Linked DNA regions of Homo sapiens: regions 1 and 3 are each linked to region 2. The links come from fine-mapping of genetic effects on gene expression. A gene starts in region 2. Each other region holds a variant in brackets. All regions are shown on one strand. Distances are between the middles of the regions.

Evidence for each region. PIP is the estimated chance that this variant, and not a neighbour inherited with it, causes the effect.
Region 1: its variant is fine-mapped to the expression of RAP1GAP in whole blood (INTERVAL, PIP 0.99).
Region 3: its variant is fine-mapped to the expression of RAP1GAP in esophagus mucosa (GTEx, PIP 0.93).

Annotation. Positions count from the first base shown.
Region 1 is chr1:21,774,087-21,780,459 of GRCh38, forward strand. All of the region lies in intron 1 of USP48 (ubiquitin specific peptidase 48), which reads right to left. Among named protein-coding and RNA genes, the nearest start is that of USP48, 5.9 kb to the right of the region's middle. The variant CA/C (reference allele first, on the strand shown) is at 3,886.
Region 2 is chr1:21,666,576-21,673,091 of GRCh38, forward strand. RAP1GAP (RAP1 GTPase activating protein) reads right to left here and starts at 2,782. Exons shown (of 25, transcript NM_002885.4): 1 at 2,679-2,782. RefSeq lists a silencer at 2,704-2,853 and an enhancer at 3,502-4,701.
Region 3 is chr1:21,624,790-21,631,276 of GRCh38, forward strand. It overlaps RAP1GAP (RAP1 GTPase activating protein), which reads right to left. Exons shown (of 25, transcript NM_002885.4): 3 at 1,515-1,608. Among named protein-coding and RNA genes, the nearest start is that of RAP1GAP, 41 kb to the right of the region's middle. The variant G/A (reference allele first, on the strand shown) is at 2,022.

The sequences.
Region 1 (6,373 bases), 110 kb after region 2:
GAGAATCACTTGAACCCAAAAGGTGGAGGTTGCAGTGAGAGCAGATAACGCCACTGCACTCCAGCCTGGGTGACAGAGCGAGACTCCGTCTCAAAATAATAATAATAATAATAATAATAATAATAATAATAATAATAAGGCAGGTATGTATTTGGGGCTCCTGCTAAATGAGATTTTAGCTTCTCTTGCCACACACAAAATTTGTAACTGTGAGATAACAGATGTCAATCTGCTTCATTACAGTTACCATTTTACTATCTGTATGTATGCTATGTTATATATCATAAACATACATAAGAATATTTTTTAAGAAAGAATAGGACCGGTCGCAGTGGCTCATGCCTGTAATCCCAGCACTTTGGGAGGCCAAGGTGGGCAGATCGCGAGGTCAGGAGATCGAGACCATCCTAGCCAACACAGTGAAACCATATCTCTACTAAAAATACAAAAATTAGCCGGGTGTGGTGGGGCGCCCCTGTAGTCCCAGCTACTCAGGAGGCTGAGGCAGGAGAATTGCTTGAACCCGGGAGGCAGAGGTTGCAGTGAGACGAGATTGCACCACTGTACTCCAGCCTGGCAACAGAGCAAGATTCTGTCTCAAAACAAACAAACGAAAAAAGAATAGCCAGGTGCGGTGGCTCACACCTGTAATCTCAACACTTCGGGAGGCTGAGGTGGGCAGATCACCTGAAGTTAGGAGTTTGAGACCAGCCTGGCCAACATGGTGAAACCCCGTCTCCACTAAACTACAAAAATTAGCCAAGCATGGTGGCCCATGCCTGTTGTCCCAGCTACTCCGGAGGCTGAGGCCCAAGAATCACTTGAACCTTGGGAGGCGGAGGTTGCAGTGAGCCAAATTCACGCACTGCACTCCAGCCTGGGCAACAAAGCTAGACTCTCTCAAAAATAAATAAATAAATAAATAAATAAATAAATAAATAAATAAATAAGGCAGCTCTACATGCATGAATAGAAACAAGTTGCAACAAAGTATGTATTGTGACTCCCCTTTGTTCTTTTTCCTTTGAGACAGGGTCTTGCTCTATCGCCCAAGCTGGAGTGCGGTGGCATGGTCTTGGCTCACTGCAACCTCCACCTCCCAAGCTTAAGCCATCCTCCCACCTCAGTCTCCAGTGTAGCTGGAACTATGGGTCCTCGTTAGGGTTATTTTGTTTGGTTGGTTGGTTTTTATTGAGACAGAGTCTCACTCTGTCACCCAGGTTGGCGTGCAGTGGCTCAATCTTGGCTCACTGCAACCTACACCTCCTGGGTTCAAGCAATTCTCGCGCCTCAGCCTCCTGAGTAGCTGGAATTACAGGTGTATGCCGCCACCATGCCCGGCTAATTTAGTAGAAATGGGTTTTTGCCATGTTGACCAGACTGGTCTCAAACTCCTGACCTCAAGTAATCCTCCCACCTCGGCCTAACAAAGTGTTGGGACTACAGGCGTAAGCCACCGTGCGTGGCCCTCATTAGGGTTTTGGGACTAGAGCTACAAAGCCACTGAAGTAAGGTGGCATGACACTGGCTTTCTAGAGTGCTTCACACATTTCTGTAATGTTTTAATTTAGTAATAGTCATATGATGTTTCCCTAATGAGAACAAAACAGACATTGTACTCCCTATACACGGCTGGAAGCATAAGTAAATCCAGCCTTTGAAAATTCATATCAAGGCTGGGCATGGTGACATGCACTTGTAATCCCAGCTATTCAGGAAGCTGAGGAAGGAAGATCCCTTGAGCCCAGGAGTTTGAGACCAGCCTAAGCAACATAGTAAGACCCCGTCTCAAAAACAAAACAAAACAAATTTCACATCAAAAGATTAACTGTAACAAAAAGAAATTGTAACAAAATAAATACATATTAAACATATGAAACCCTTTGCACTTAGATCAGAAAGTGTGACTAACACATTATGTTGGTGAGGGTATGATGTATATGTAAGATACTCTTACACATTGACAGGGAAATGTAAAGAGAAACCCTCATTCTGAGGGGCAATTTAGCAACATGGATCAATATGAAAAACACACATCCCTTACCCAACAATTTTACTTCCAGGAACTTACTTGACCACCAACCTCACTGTTAACAAACAAGTCTGCCCTCAAGACACATAATATTTGCAGAATTCTGTGGACAGAGGATTTAGTACACACTGCTTTCATCCTGTGATTGCCCTAAGTACTTTCAGAAATGTAAACAGTCCTGACACATGTGGTCTTTGAATATGGTCAAACACCTCATTCTTCAGCTTTGGTATCTCATAACAAATTGTTGCATAAAGTATGAAAAATACATATTGGTGATACTATTTATTTATTTAGTCTCTTCTTGCAAAGAGAAGAAATAAACAAAAGGAGAAAGGCTCATGTCTGGAATCCCAGCAATTTAGGAGGCTGAGGAGGGAGGACTGCTAGAGCCCAGGAGTTTGAGACCAGCCTGGGCAATGTGACAAGACTCTGTCTCTATAAAAAAGGAGAAAGTGAATAGTGTCTTGTCTCAAAAAAAAAAAAAAAAAAAAAAAAAAGAAGAAAGTGAGTAGAAAGAGAGCTTTTTGGATATCTAAATAAAAGCTGACAGGGCCAGGCACAGTGGCTCACGCCTGTAATCCCAGCACTTTGGGAGGCCAAGGCGGGGGGATCACTTGAGGTCAGGAGTTCGAGACCAGCCTGGCCAATATGGCAAAACCCCATCTCTACTAAAAATACAAAAATTAGCCGGGCGTGGTGCCTGCAATGCCAGCTACTCGGGAGGCTGAGGTAGGAGAACTGCTTGAACCTGGGAGGCGGAGGCTGCAGTGAGCCGAGTTTGTGCCGCTGCACTCCAGCCTGGGCAACAAGAGTGAAACTCTGTCTCAAAGAAAAAAAAAAAAAATTAGCCAGGTGTGGTGGTGCATGCCTGTAATCCCAGCTACTCAGGAGGCTGAGGCAGGAGAATCGCTTGAACATGGGAGGCGGAGGTTGCAGTGAGCCAAGATTGCGCCACTACACTCAGCCTGGACAACAGAGCCAGACTCCATCTGAAAAAAAAAAACAAAACACCAAAAATTAGCCGAGTGTGGTGGAGCATGCTTGTAGTCACAGCTACTCGGGATGCTGAAGTAGGAGGATGGCTTGAGCCCCTGGGAGGCAGAGGTTGCATTGAGCCAAGATTGCACCACTGTACTCCAGCCTGGGCAACAGAGCCAGACCTTGTCTCATAAAATTAACTAATTCATTAATTAAAACTGCTCAAACCTTGGGTGAGGTGTGGCTTCTTACAAGACCAAAAGCGTCAAAAAAAAAATAGTACAATGTTGGGGCCAGGTGGTTCACACCTGTAATCCCAGTACTCTGGGAAGCTGAAGCAGGACTGCTTGAGGCTAAAGGTTCAAGGTCAGCCTGGGTAACATAGTAAGACCCCAACTCTACAAAAAATACCAAAAAAATTAGCTGGGTGTGGTGGTACAACTTGCAGTTGTACCTACTGGGGATGTTGAGGCAAAAAGATCACTTGAGACCAGGAGTTTAAGGCTACAGTGAGCTACAATCACACCACTGCACTCCAGGTTGGGCAACAAAGCAAGAACCCTGCTTCACTGATAAGAATAAGAAGGCGGAGAAGAAGAAGAAATTGGACTACATCAACATGAAAAGCTTTTGTACTGAAAATGATACCACCAATAAAATTAAAAGCCATAGAAATTAGAAAAAATATTTGCAAATCATATATTTAATAAGGGACTTATATGCAGTATATATAAAGAACACAACTTGGCTGGATGCAGTGGCTCACGCCTGTAATCCTAGCACTTTGGGAGGCTGAGGTGGGCGTATCACAAGGTCAGGAGTTTGAGACCAGCCTGGCCAGCATAGTGAAACCCCGTCTCTACTAAATATAC[CA/C]AAAAAAAAAAAAAAAAAAAATTAGCTAGGCGTGGCGGTGTGCGCCTGTAGTCCCAGCTACTCGGGAGGCTGAGGCAGGAGAATCGCTTGAACCTGGGAGGCGGAGGTTACAGTGAGCCGAGATGGCATCACTGCACTCCAGCCTGGGTGACAGAGTGAGACTCCGTCTGAAAAAAAAAAACAAAACAAAAACAAGACCAAAAAAAGATCACAACTCAATAACAAAAGGCAACTCAATTTAAAAGCACGCAAAGGATTTAAACAGACATTTCTCAAAAAAGATATATGAATGGCCAATAAGTACACAAAAAGATGTTTAACGTGATTAGTCATCAATGAAACACAAATCAAAACATAAGACACCACTTCGCACCCACTAGGATGGCTAAAAGAAAAAAGGCAGTAACAAGTATAGGGACATAGAGCAATTGGAATCCTCATATACTGCTTGTGAATATGTAAAATAGCGCAGCCACTCTGGAAAGTAACCTGACAATTCCTCAAAATATTAAACACAGACATGGTGGTTCGTGCCTACAGTCCCAGCTACCAGGGAAGCTGGGGCAGGAGTATTGATTGAGCCCAGGAGTTCAAGGACAGCCTACACAACATAGCAAGACCCTCATCTTAAAAAAAAAAAAAAAAAAAAAGCCAAAAAAAGGCCATGAACAGTTTCATTCATGCAATCCAAGCATTTCAGGGGGCCAAGGCAGGAGGATCACTTGAAGCAAGGAGTTCAAGACCAGCTTGGGCACCAAAGTGGGACTCCATTTCCACAAATTTTTTTTTTTTTTTGGAGACGGAGTCTCGTTCTGTCACCCAGGCTGGAGTGCAGTGGCGTATCTCAGCTCACTGCAAGCTCTGCCTCCCGGGTTCGTGCCATTCTCCTGCCTTTGCCTCCCGGGTTTATGCCATTCTCCTGCCCCAGCCTCCCGAGTAGCTGGGACTACAGGCATCCGCCACCATGCCCGGCTAATTTTTTGTATTTTTAGTAGAGACGGAGTTTCACCACGTTAGCCAGGATGGTCTCGATCTCCTGACCTCGTGATCCGCCAGCCTTGGCCTCCCACAGTGCTGAGGTTACAGGCGTGAGCCACCACGCCCAGCAAAAAAATTTTGTTTAATTAGCCTCGTGTTGTGGCATGTGCCTGTAGTGGCAGGAGGCTGAGGCGGGAGGATTGCTTGAGCCCAGGAGTTCAAGGCTGCAGTGAGCCATGATTGCACTGCAATACAGTCTGTGTTACAGAGTGAGACCTCATTAAAAATAAATAAATAAATAAAAGTTAAAAGAGCTGGGTGCGGTGGCTCAAGCCTGTAATCCCAGCACTTTGGGAGGCCGAGGTAGGTGGATCACCTGAGGTCAGGAGTTCAAGACCAGCCTGGCCAACTTGGCGAAACCCAGTCTCTACTAAAAAATACAAAAAATTAGCCGGGTGTGGTGGTGGGCGTCTGTAATCCCAGTGACTCAGAGGCTGAGGCACAAGAATCGCTTGAACCTAGGAGGCAGAGGTTGCAGTGAGCCGAGATGGCGCCACTGCACTCCAGCCTGGGCAACACAGAGAGACTCCGTCTCAAAAAAAAAATAATAATAATAATAAAAAGTTAAAAGTTACCACACAACCCAACAATCCCACTTCTTGCTCTATAACCAAGAGAAATAAAAATAAATGCCCACACAAAAACTACTACACTAATGTTCATAGCAACATTATAATAGCCAAAAAGTAGAAATGACCCAAATGTCTATCAGCAGATGAATGCAAATTAAAAATGTGGTAGATACAGAGATATGATGGCATATTATTGATCAATAAAAGGAAAAGAGGCAACGAGCACATGAAAAGACGCTGAACTCATTAGTCACTAGGAAAATGCAAATCAAAACTACAAAGATGCATCACTTCACACCCAAGTAGGAGGGCCTAACCAGAAAAACAGAAAATAGTACCTGTTTATGAGGATGATGAAGCATTTGAACCCTCATACATCACTGGTGGGAATGTAAATCGGTACAACCACTGTGGAAGTTTCGCGGTTCGGTTAAGTTAAACACAGAATTGACTGTGTATGACCCAGTAATTCCACTCCCAGGTAAAGAACTGAAATCAGATGTTCAGACCAAAACTTGTATGCAAATGTTCAGAGAAGTACTACTCAAAATAAGCAAAAGGTGGAAATAATCAAAATGTCCCTCAACTGATGAATAGATATATAAAATGTGGTATTATCCATAAAATGGAATACTACTCAGCCGTAAGGAATAAAGTAGTGACACATGCGCAGCAGGGATAACCCTTGGAAACATTACGTTAAGTGAAACCAGACACAAATGGCCACGTACTGTATAATTCCATTGCTATGAAATATTAATAGAGAAATCCAGAGACAGAAAGTAGATTAGCAGTTGCCAGGGGCTGGGCGAGGGGGGAAAATGGGAAGTGACTAACAGATGCTCAGTTTCCTTTTAGGATAATGAAAAGTTCTGGA
Region 2 (6,516 bases):
AGTCAAGCTGGGTCCACATGAATCAGAAAAGAGGGAGGAAGGGGAGGCTTTGCTGGGGACGGTCGGGGGCCTCCACTCCCCTCCCCGGGTGATGAAGCATTAACATCCCACACGCAGGAAGCTGATGTAATTCATGCGTGTGTGCACCCATGATGGCCTGGGTGTGGGTGGGTGCATGTGCGTGTCTGCCAGGTTCATTTTTAAGGGCGTAGGGCATCCTCGTGTTCTTCCTGCATGCGCGTGTACCATGTGTGCACCCTGGAGGAGATAATGGAGGCAGACGACAGAAGACGAGGGCTTCTGAAAAGGCTCTTCTCCTTGCTGACAACCTCCGTCTCTCTGTGTGTACACACGTGCCAGCATCTGGATGGTGTGACTCTCAGTGCTTGTGTGTCAGGCAGAGTCGGGGGCAGGGGTCTTGGCCTGGGTGTGCCCGTGTGTTCCTGTGTCTGGGTCTCAGGGTATCTGTCAGTCTAACTGTATTTGCGTTTGTGTCTGGCCGTGCTCAGGTCTCGGTTGTTTGCACAGCACATGCGGCTGCTCAGCAGCCTCTGACAGCCAGGACAAAGGCCTCCGTAGACAGATGGCAGCATGGAGGACAGATCTGCCCGAGGAGTCCTCAAAGGGCCTCTTGGCCCCAGAATTTGACAGCAGGGCAGGGGCAGGGCCAGGTGAGAGGGAGGTGGAGGCCCTGCTGTGGGAGCCTGAGGCCTAAGTGGCAGAGACCTCTCTCCCTGCTGCCCTCCAAGAGGCCAAAGGAAGAATCCTTCTTGTCTCCTAAGGGTGGAAGGTAGTTAGAGCCAGGAGAGGGGCCTCCTGAGACCCCTGCCAGGCAGGCACCTTGGGAAGAAGAGAAGAGGAGAGGGCTTTGCCCAAGCAAGCTGGGAAGGTCCCAGGGTGAAAGCACCATTATGGTGCTCCACGGGACAACCCTCCCTCCATGGGAAGGGGTGGCAAGGCAAGCCTAGGACTCTGGACCCTCTCCTCAACCTGACCCAGCTTCCAGCCACAGGCACCCTCACCTCCTGGCAGCAAAGGGGAGCAGGTCCACATGGACCACTCCACCACGGCGTTCACCCTTCCTCCTCTCCACCGCTGTGGAGATCTTCTCCCATCAAGAGTCAGAGTACCACGATTCTAGACCTTGCTGAAGGTGACTAGGTGACCTCAGGCAGTTCATTTAGCCTCTCCGAGCCTCAGTTTCCTCACCTGTGCAATGGAGGCTTCAGCGCCTGCCCTGAAATATTGCTGTGAAGGGGGAAATTGCTCGTGCCACCTGAGGATTAATCATTACCCTGGAACCCTTCCCAAGGCCATCAAGGAACACGCACCCCTTACCAGACCTTCCAGCTGCTGGGGGCTCTCAGAGTGAGGCTGAGGTCATGGAGAAGGGAATGGGGGGCCCCCATGGCCAGCTGGACCTGATCACTGCCTCCCCACTCAGCCACAGCCCTCAGGGCCCTGTGCCAGTCCAGAAGCCCATTCAGGGACACCTTTGGCCAATGTTCTGTTTCATCTGCGAGGCAACCTTCCCCAGTGCCCCAACCATAGCGTTTTCCCCCAAACACCCTCAGGAAGGAGGGACCACTACCTGTGCAGGGGGGGCCAGGAGCCTCCTGAGAGCCTCATATGGGGAGGAAGTGGTACCATCTCACCCCCATTGCCTTTCTCTCCTACTTCCACCTGGCCAGCTTCCCTCAGTGCCCCTCCTGCCTCAGTGCCCCTTCCCTCAGTGTCCTTCCTGCCTGCCGCCCCAGGGGCCTGACCTCTGACTTGGCAGGGAGGGGAATGGAGCCCGGGGACAGAGGCCAATGAGCCCTGAGAACAGTGGATGTTCTTCCTGACCCCACCACCGGGCCTGTGCTATGACCCCAACAAGGACTCCGAGGGCATGCACAGGCTGGGGTCTGTTATGGTAGGGAGGGGGCCGCTCACCTCCGGAGACTGTGTGTGTGTGCAGGTGTGCGTACACAAGGTTTCTTCCCCAAGCCCAGGCGCCCCGCAGCTGGCACCAAACCCTGCAGGGCACGGAAACCGCCCCGTGAATTCCCACCGAGTCCTCAGATCCTGCCGAGCCAGGGGAGGCGACGAGGGGGCGCCCAACTTCGTGACGCGTGTGCCCCGCTCTGCCGCGGGGGTCAGGGACAGGGGAATGCGTCCTGTCTCTGGGGATGCAAGGACATCACCGCCCTCCCCGCTCAGGGTCCTTGATCTGAGGCCCCCACTTCCCTCCTCTGAGGACAGGAGCGCCACCCTCTGGGGGGCGCTAGGGCTTGGGCCCCTCCCCAGGGATGGAGGAAACGCGCCCACTTCCCACAGTCCCTCCTCTAAACCCCAGGCGCCCCCACCTCGAGGTGGGCGGAAAACTGGACTCCCCACCCACCCAGGGGGGTGGGACCAAAGCCCCCTGGCCGCGGCCTGGACCAAGTCCAACAGGCTGGGGGTTCAGCCGGCTCAGTCCAGGCCTCCCCCCACTTCTCCAGCTGCTGTCAAGACCGGGCTGCGCGAGCCCAGCTGCGCCCACCCCTCGCCCCTGGAGACCCGGGTCCCCCACGCGTTCGCCCCCACCCTCCGTCCCCGCCCGCCCGCGCGGGGTCTTCGCTGCGAGCCGACGGGAGTCTGGACACCTCTGTCCCCTTCCCCTTTCCAGGGCCGCAGCCCTGGCGGGGCGCACTCACCCAAGGGCCTGGGCCGGGGGCGTCCTGGGCTCGGCACTCTGGTGCCCGCGGCCGCCGCTGCAGCTCTGCTCAGATGCGGCCGGCGCTCGCCGCCGCCGCAGTTCGGGGAGGGGGACGTCACATGACCGCGGAGCGCTCCTTCCCCGGCGCCGCTCCCCACTCACTGCGGAGCCCAAGCCGCGGGCGCGGGAGCGGCGGGGAGGCCCCCGCCCTGCCGCCCCGCCCCGCCGCAGGTCCTGGAGGAGGGTTCTCGGTGCCCCCATTTTACAGGTGGGGAAACTGAGGACCAGAGAGGGGCAGGGACTGGCTCAAGGTTACACAGCTAGACAGTGGCAGAACCTGGGCGACAGCCCAGCTGTCCAGGCAACAGCTCATGCTCCAAGGGGACTGGGACAACTTCTGGATCAAGTGGAGACGTCGGGATAGGTGGGGCCCACGGCCCCCATGGGCTCCGCTTGTCTGCAGGCGCGGGAGGAAGGCGCACAGGCTTCGCTGGGCGAGAAAGCTGCTGTGCCCTGGCTGACGCCCTCCTCACCCGGGCGCTCGGCGCGCTTCCTGGCAGAGGCCACGCGGTTGACCCTCGCCAGCCCATTCGCGGCTCTTGGACTTTGTCTCTGGACTGGGCAGCTCGCCCCCGCCCCAGCCTAACCCGGGCCCAGGGCGGGTGTGGGGAGGGGAGCCACAGGCTACGGAGAAGTGGAAGGGAGGCACCCGGAAGAGAGTGGGATCAGAACAAGAGTGAAAACCCAGGCAGGGAGGGGGCGGCAGAGATCACCTCGGCCTGACTTCCAAGGCCCAGGGAGAGTTAGAGACTTGCCCAAGGTCCACAGCAAGTGAGCGGCCTGCCCACTCGAGTCCCTTCTTTGATGGTCAACAGAGCCTGAGGCTCCTGTGCCCCACTCCCCACCAAGGGGGAGCCCTCACCCACACCTCTTTCTGTTCTCCACTGAGCTCCCTCCCCGGGGAACAGCCCACATGAAGCAAAGAAACACGCAGTGGGTCGGCAAGGCCAGAACTGGGGACAACGGGTGAGGGGTATGGTTGGTGGCTCCAAGGTCATGAACTCGTCACAGAACACTCGTGTTCCAGGGGGATCTCTGAAATCTCTGGATCTCACCCCAATGTTCTAAGAACTGGGAAAACAGGCTGCAAAAGGTACAAAGACAGACCTCTTTCTCAACCATTTCGAATTGGTGGGTCAAGCCGACAGGGCCCTCCAAGGTCAACAAGTCCAATAGGCCCACTTGACAGATAATATTTAGGGAGGGGAAAGTCCAAGACATGTACTCAATATATTTCTTGAGCATCTACTGTGTGCTTAAAACCACAACTGTTACTTCCAGCTCCCACTATTTTCCCGGCCACATGGGCTGCATTTCACAAAAGGAAAGATCCGAGGTCTTCAGCAACTCTTACATCAGCCTCTGGAGGATCTGAGACATGCAAGCCTCCGGGTTTTCAGTCCCATAGGGGCTGGGGACCAGAGCCATGTTTTCCGGTCAAGACTCTAATCCCCGTGGAGAAAAGGTGAATAAGGGGGAATAGCAGGAAATGCCCCACCCTCTTCCCACGCATCCACCCACCTGTGAAAGGGCAGAGGGGAAGGTAGATCAGGCACTTGTTCTTTTCAGTCCTCCCTCCAGCAAGCTTCCCTAGCTGTATATGGGAAAGAGACCCCAGCCCAGGGGGGTTTCTCAAACTTCTAAGAGTGCAGGAGCGGTCTGTAGACTCAGATTCAGATTCAGTGGGCCTGGAGCCTGAGCTCCTGCATTTATAATGAAGCTTCGTGGCTGCAGACATCCTGAGCAGCACTGGTAGTACAAGGCAAGTTGTCAGGGCAGGAGGAAGACTCCTGCGGTATCACATGCTCACTCATGGACCACCCAACCCGGGGGGCCCTTTGATCTCCTGCCTAGGAATACACCAGGACTATATAGTTGGCTCAAACACTGTAATAAAAAGGCAAGAAGTTGAATGAGGCTGGCCGAGGCGCTTCTGGGGATGATGGTGAAGGGACTGTGGGGCATAGCAACTGCCCTAGACAGGTATGTCCTGCAGGGCTCTGGTCCTGGGAGATGCTTGGTCAAATACATCCTACTTAGGAAATGCCAGCAGAATGCCTATAGACCTTCAAGGGCAGCATGTACTGGGTGGGGCTGGCTCATCTTCAGCAGGGGCGGGGCTCACAGATCTCAGAAGTACATGGATTCCAGGATCCTTTTAAGCACCATCTCTCTACCCATCCTCTCGCTTTTTTATGCATTGCTCCCTGAATTCAATTCTGAGCACAATCTTCATGCTTCTTGCTTCCCTAACTCCTGTTCCAAAAGGGCCCCTTTCTCCTCCACGCTTTAAGACAGAGACCCTCAATTCTGGCCAGGCATTGCTGATGGTACATCCCAGAGTGCTGAGTGGAGACAAAGGTGTCCCACCTGAGCTGGAGGGAGGGGGCAGATGGAGGCACTGGAGATGCAGAAATGCAGCAAGCCAAGGGGTACAGCTGTGTGACCTCTTCATGGTCCCATAACCTTCTGGAGTCTGGACCTGCAGACTCCAAGGTCCTTAAGAGCTCAAGAGCCTATTAGCCTGGGGGTACTGAATGTCCCCGACCCTGGCTGAGCAGACCAAAGAACGAAGTCTCTTCTATGCCAGGCGTCTCTATTTCTTCTTTATAATCAAGGAGCTTTTCAATTACAGCATTTTCCCCTTTACAGAAAACCTCCCTCAATGCAAGAGGCTTATAATCTCCCATGTGTCCTGGGGGGCACCATTCTGAGACTGTCAGGGCCCCTGGCGAGGAGGCAGCACGTGCCGTAGGGGGCTGGGCACAGAGCTTGGCATGCAGCCTAGCTACTGAGGGGGAAGATTGGACAAAGGCCCCGGAGCTTTGCTTTCCCTGTCCTATTTCAATCCAAACCACTCAGGACTGACCACTCACGCATGGCTGCCTCTGGGCACAAGCCTTGTCTCAGACACTTAATACATTGCGACCCAGCCACCATCTCTGTGCTCCCTATCACTGAGAAATGAAAGCTGGCTTTAAAAATCTGGCATCCAAAAAGGCTGGAGAACGAAAACATGGGTGGCACCACGGTAAACTCCAAATAATGCATGAGACTGCAGGTGAGGGAGGGGGGAACAGTCCTAAAATGGGAATGATGCCTCTTGGAAATAACTCCCCATCTCTGCCCGCCCACTCCTTCCCAGTCAGATCAAATGGGAGAAAAACTGAGATAGGAACTGCCCACCAGAGCAAGTAGGGGAAGAAAACCCCAAAGCAGCAAGTCCTCAAGGTGTGCTGTCCACAGAGCCACAGGTAAGGTCTAGGAAAGGCCGGCAAGGAGGGTGGGCTTCAGGGGCGGCTTGGAGCAGAGGACAGTTCCACTCTAACCACAGCAAGGCAGGATGAAGAGTGGCAGTCGGCGCCAGGGCACACGCATCAGGGAAGGGCCAGCGGCCCCCGTCTGGGTGGGAGGCTGCCAACCTGGTGCAGCAGACATGACAGAGACTACCCCTGGGGTTAGAGGACTTTGGATCATGAATAGTTAGGAAGTCCCTGTTTTGAGGACAAAGAAGAAAAGCCTGAAGGTAGGGACAGTACTGGTCAAACCAAAGTAGTAAAAAGAGCTCTCCCCCAAGGGGCCACGGGAAAACTTCTAACAGATTCCAAAGTAGTCATTCATTTTTCCTTACTGAGGATGTATCATGCGGGCCGCTGTGGGAATACAGTGGTAAGATGGCCAGAGCCCTGCTCTCAGGGAGCTACAACAGTCTAGCACTAATTAGGTTGATTCATTTGTGGGGGACTGAATGGTTTTAGGTGCAGACATAAAATCCA
Region 3 (6,487 bases), 42 kb before region 2:
CCGAGAAGGCCAACCCCAGGCTGTCTAGCACGCAGGGCCCAGGGCTATGGGCTGCTCTCTCTCTCTCTCGTCTCCTGATGGGAAGACTGAGGCCCAGGGAGGGGAAGCTGTGGTCCGAGGGCATACAGCCCTTGGTGAGAACCCAGGGCTCCTCCTGAGATGCTCAGGGGAAGAGGGACTGGGAGCTTCATTCATGAACCCAGCTGTCAAGTGAGGGCTGCCATTGAGTCTCTCCCTTCCTGCCAAGCCCCGGATCCACATGCCCCAGTCTTGGGCTGTTGCCCAGACAGAGAAAACAGGAGTCAGTCTCAGGAATCTCCTGCTGCTGCTCCCAGCAGCCCCACGTGGCACCCCCATGAAGGTGGTGGCCCCACATATGGACACCATTCCTTGGCCATCTGCCCTCCCAGCCTAGGCAAGGTACGTGGCCTTTATTCCAGGCCAGAGCTCTCAGGGAGGAGCCTGGTGGATTTTGCCTCTGCTATTTTCTGGCTGTGTGACCTTGGGAAGACCACTTTACTTCTCTGATCTCCTGCATCCTCAACTAGATAATGCCTACTACCCAAGGTTTACTAAAAGGACCAGGTGGCATGATGTCTGTGGGTGTGCTTTAGAAACTGCAAAAAGTACTGCAAAAGTGAGAGCTTGTCACCCCTGCATCAGAGAGGCCCTAACACCAGGCCCTCTGGTCAGACAGCTTGCATCCGGTCGTGGCCCCACCACATCCAACCTGAGTGACTTCGGGCAAGTGACTGAACCTCTCTGAGCCTCAATTTTCTCATCTGCAAAATGGGACTGATTATAGTAGCTATCACATAGTCCAAGGATGAGATGAAATACTGCAAATAAAGCATTAAGTACTCTCTTAGTACACAGTAAGTCTCAATAAATATTAGAGGTTATTTCTGCTATTTGATGTCCTGCATACATTGTTCAGTTATCTATTGCTTTACTGGACTGTGGCTCCTTGAGAGCAGGATCTGTATCAGATTGGTTTCTGGTCGCTTGGCACCCAGCACAAGGCTTGGCATGAAGCAGGTACTGGGCAAACGTTTGATTTTAACGATAATGATAGAGGCTCGTTGACAGGGCTCTTGCTCTGTGCCGGATGCTGTGCCTGGGCCGCCCTGTCTGTACTTTGCAGCAATCTTCACAATGACCCTGTGAAGTGGGTCCTCTCATTGCACCTGGTTTACAGATAAGGAGACTGATGGTGACGTTGATTGTGGAGATGATGAAGATAGCTGGGGGGCTGGTTTATTCCCAGCTGTTTTGCTTAGATTCGCCCTAAGCCCCTCCCTGCCACAGTCTACAGACCTAGGTTCAACGTTTGTGACTGCACCAGCCTCACCCCGGGCTCAGGAGTGGCAACCCCTTAGGAGCTAAACCCCATCAGCATCTGCCTGAACATTTTACCTTTGCCCAAAAGTCATTCTTGGGCCTTTCCCAGCCCTGGGCATGTGTCGGAGGTAGGGGGCAGACCAGGGGCCGTAGGTATGGAGGGGGACACTTACCTTAGGGTAGAGTGAAGGAGTATAGGAGGGAACTAAGTTCACTCGTGACAGGTCTAGTGCCTGAGGGAAGTGCTGGTTCTGCCCATCGCTCCTCCTGGAAGAGAAAGAGTCTGAGGTCAGGGAGAGCCCCAAGCCAGGAAATTTGGGAACTCTGGGAGAGTCACTCTCAGAGCTGGGGGATGTGAGGGAGGATAGACTTCACGGAGGAGAGGGTCATGGGTTCCCCAAGAGGAGGGAGAGGAGGGGCTTCATTAGCAGGGCTACCACACAGGCTTCTCCTTCCCCGGAGATCAGAGACGTGGACAGGGTCTCTCCCCAAGCTCTCCATTAGGCCTCCAGCCAAGCAGTGACCTACTCTGAAGATGAGTAGACTGAGGCAGGGGCACTGAGGGTTGCTGTGGAGGGTGAGCTTTCTGGACTAAGCAGGGTGCCCCCGCCTCTACAATGGACCCCTCCCTGAGCCTCTGGGAGTAGCCGCCTTGGCATTGAGGGGCTACCAGGGCTACC[G/A]CTATTACGAATGACAGTGACCGTGACCATAACTGACGCTCATTGGGCCTACCACATGCCAGGCCCTGTGCTGAGCCCTCGTTCTAGGCCCGAGGGCATGGCCTCCTCACCACACTGGTATTCCCACTTTACAGACAGGACCCAGCTGTGCACAGAGGTCACACGGCTGGCCGGCAGCAAAGCTAGCATCTGCATGAGACCTGCCTGAGTCTAAGCCCGGACTCTCTGCCCACACCACACCCTTCCCTGAGGAAAGAAAGCAGGTCTGGCGAGGGTGAAGTCAGCTCCTATCACCCTAAAAAGCCTGCCGAGGCCACCTCTGGGGCAGGGAGAGGAAATGCCCAGTGGTTCCCGGGATCCTGGGGCTGGGCAAGCAGGCCTGGCTTCCGCTGCTGCCTAGGGCCACCCTGACGTGGCTGCACCTCTGCTCAGGTCCCATCAAGAGAGGCTGGTCCCTCGAGGGTGACTCAGATGATCGCTGGTGGCCTACAGCAGGCTTGAGTCAGGCAGAGCCGGGGCTGCCACACCCCAAGAGGGGAAGGACCCGAAAAAGTCTGGCCCAGGAAGAAGACTGAGAAAGCTGTGAGCCTCCCTTCTTCTTTTTTTTTTTTTTTTTTTTTTATGACAGAGTTTCGCTCTTATTCCCCAGGCTGGCGTGCAAATGGCTTGATCTCGGCTCACTGCAACCTCTGTCTCCCGAGTTCGAGCGATTCTCCTGCCTCAGCCTCCTGAATAGCTAGGATTGCAGGCATGCGCCACCATGCCTGGCTAATTTTGTATTTTTAGTAGAGACGGGGTTTCTCCATGTTGGTCAGGCTGGTCTCGAACTCCCGACCTCAGGTGATCTGCCCGCCTCAGCCTCCCAAAGTGCTGAGATTATAGGTGTGAGCCACTGCGCCCAGTCTGAGCCTCCCTTCTAATTCCACTCAGCCCAGCTACTCCAGCAGGAGAAATGGCCCGGAGGAACCATCCACAGCCCCACTTATGCACTGGAGGCCTCTCCACCTCCCAGGAGTGATGGCATCTTACAAGAGGGGTCTGCGCTGGGCAATGCTTGACCCAAAAGGACAGATATGGTGGCAGTGGCATTTCAAGCCTGTGGCATCAGTGTGGGGGAGATAGTCTCAGACACTGACTGGCTAGGTGAGCTTGGGTTAGTGACACAGCCTCTCTCAGCCTCAGTTTCCAAAAACATTCATCGCAGAGCCTGGGCAGCTCATGGGAATTCACTCAATGAAAACTTTCACATCATTTGTTCATGGTAAACTCTGGCTCCCCAAGTTTCACTATTTGTTGAATGACTGAATGAATGAATGAAGGTTGGGAGTCACTGAAGGGTTGTGAGCAAAGGAACATCCCTACGCACAGGTTCCTGCATATTGCAGGGTACACTGACATGGGGAGAGTCTGGAGTGGGAGGGTGGGGACTAAAGAGAGGTCCATAGAAATAGTTACCGGCAGGCTGGGCGTGATGGCTCACACCTGTAATCCCAGCACTTTGGGAGGCCAAGGCGGGCAGATCACCTGAGGTCAGCAGTTCAAGACCAGCCTGGCCAACCATGGCCAATATGGTGAAACCCCATCTCTACTAAAAAAAAAAAAAAAAAAAAAAAAAAAAAAAAATACAGGCTGGGCGTGGTGGCTCACACCTGTAATCCCAGCACTTTGGGAGGCCGAGGTGGGCAGATCATGAGGTCAAGAGATCCCGAGAACATCCTGGCCAACATGGTGAAACCCCGTCTCTACTAAAAATGCAAAAATTAACTGGGCATGGTGGTGCACGCCTATAGTCCCAGCTACTTGGGAGGCTGAGGCAGGAGAATCGCTTGAACCCGGGAGGCGGAGGTTGCAGTGAGCTGAAATTGCGCCACTGCACTCCAGCCTGGCGACAGAGTGAGACTCCATCTCAAATAAAAAAAATACAAAAATTAGCTGGGCACAGTGGTGGGCACCTATAACCCCAGCTACTTGGGAGGCTGAGGCAGGAGAATTGCTTGAACCTGGGAGGCAGAGTTTGCAGTGAGCTGAGATCACACCACTGCACTCCAGCCTGGGCTCCAGAGGGAGACTCCACCTCAGAAAAAAAAAAAGGAGGGGGGAAGGGAGGAAGGGAGGGAGGGTGGCTTCCAGGCAATTCCACTGAGGCTCCCATGGGGACTCTTTAGTGAGACCTACTATGTGACTGGGACTGCGTCAAGCATATACTCTCCCCCAACTACTGTGCAGGAAGGTTGGTGTTATTTCTCTCCATTTTCACAGATGGAGAAGCTGAAGCTCAGAGAGGTGAAGCCACTTCCCCTAGCGAATGGGGGATGGAGCTGGAATTTAAAGTACATGCCCTAGAGGAAGTAGGGATCCTGCAGTGGGGTGGAGGGCAGAGGCTGCCTGGGGGTCAGGAAGTCCTGGGGTAGAAGCCCGGTAAAGCTGGAGTGCTGGGTGCGGCCGTGGCTGCCCAGTGGCGGCTGTTGCTTGTGATCAGGCTAGTCCAGCGGTGCCCTTCTGTCTTCCCCTAGGCTCATATGATAGCCATGCAGCAGTCCCTGACAAACCCCCTTCCAGAACCCTCTCTGCCTCAGTCTCCCCATGTGTAGGTGTCCATTTCACTCAGGATTGCTCATGTGGGTGCAGAACCAGAGCGGCCTCTGAAGGCCAGGGTGCTCTGGCTTGCACCTGGGACCCCATCCCAGGGCCCTTGGCTCTCCAGTTCCTGGCTGGCCACAGTCCTGTCCCCCGAAGGCAACTCCACCTAAAAAGCCACTGCTGAGGCCGTAAGGGGCAGGGGAAGGGAGGGGCTCCAGGATGGGGACAGAGAAGGAAACTGGAGGCTCTGGGCACTGCCTGTCCATCCATCCCCAGACCTGAAGGGGTAGAAGAGGGACAGGAATGACAAAGCCACGTCCTGCCGGGCGTCTTGCATAATCTAATTTAATCCTCACAGTTCCCCAAAGAGGCAGATGTTCAGAAACCTCCTGCTTTCCACACGAAGCTCAGAAAGGTGCGTTAACTTGCCCAAGCTCACACAGGCAATGAGGCAGGCCAGGCATTTGGACACAGGTTTGTTGACTTCAGAGCCCAAGATCTGAACTTTATAACATGTACGTCCAATCCTGTGGACCTCCCCACAGAGCCTTACGACTTCCAGCTCAGGAACACGATCCAGCACCTCAAGTCAAGTCGGAAAGGTAATAGTAACAACAGCAACGGCCGACACAGCTGATACAGAGCTTACTATGTGCAGGCTCTGCTCTACTTTATTGTATTAACTCATTTAATTTGCATTTTTCAAAGGAGGGAACTAAGACACAGAGAGGTTAAGTAACTTGTCCAAGGTCACACACAGTAAATGAAAGTCTGAAGATTTGACCTCCCCCAACATCTGGTTGCAGTGCCCTTAACACTATACCACTGACACTTAGTAAATAGTAGTTGCTCAATAAATACTTTTTTCTTTTTCCCTTTTTTTTTTTTGTTTTTTGAGACAGGATCTTGCTCTTGCTGCCCAGGCTGGTGTGCAGTGGCGTGATCAAAGCTCACTGCAGCCTTAAACTCCTAGGCTCAAGCCATCCTCCCTCCTCAGCCTCCCAAGTTGCTGGGACTACAGGCACCACCATGCCCAGCTAATTTTAGTAGAGATGAGGTCTCCCTATGTTACCCAGGCTGGTCTGGAACTTCCGGGCTCAAGAGATCCTCCCACCTCAGCCTCCCAAAGTGCTGCGATCACAGGAATGAACCACTGCCCCTGACCTTTTGTTGTTGTTAAGAAATGGGGTCTTGCTCTGTCACCCAAGCTGGAGTGCAGTGGCATGATCATGGCTCACTGCAGCCTTGAACTGCTGGGCTCAAGTGATCCTTCCCCCTCGGCCTCCTAGTAGCTGGGACTACAGGTGTGTGCTCGGCTAATTAAAAATAAATTTTTTGTTGTTGTTGTTGAGATGGGTGTCTTGCTGTGTTGCCCAGGCTGGTCTGGAACTCCTGGCCTCAAATAAGCCTCCCACCTTGGCCTCCCAAAGCACTAGGATTACAGGCATAAGCCACTGCACCTGGCCCCAATAAATACTTTTGAAGCAATGAATGAAAGCCTCTTCCCTCCTCACCAGCCCTCTGCCCTTCTCTGCTTCACGTCCTTTCCTGCTCAGCCTTCCTCACCAGCTCGCCCATCTCTGCCCCACCTTTCCCAGCACCCCTCCAATCCCCTTCTTCCTCTGGCCTCTGCAGACCACCCACAATGTGGTCGTTTCCTCCCACTTCACGAACCCGAACCTCTCTGTCCCTCCCCTTCTCTCTCCTATCCCACCCTGGTCTCCTCCTGGTCTTCTCCATTCAGTTCACATCATGGATGTCCCCCTGGTCTCTATCCCTTCCCCACGTCTCCAAAAACCATCCAACCCCCTGGCCTGGCTCAGCTTAAAATGCTTTGCATTCCTCCTGGGCGGCAGCAGCTGCGGGGAGCCCAGAGCATGCCGGGA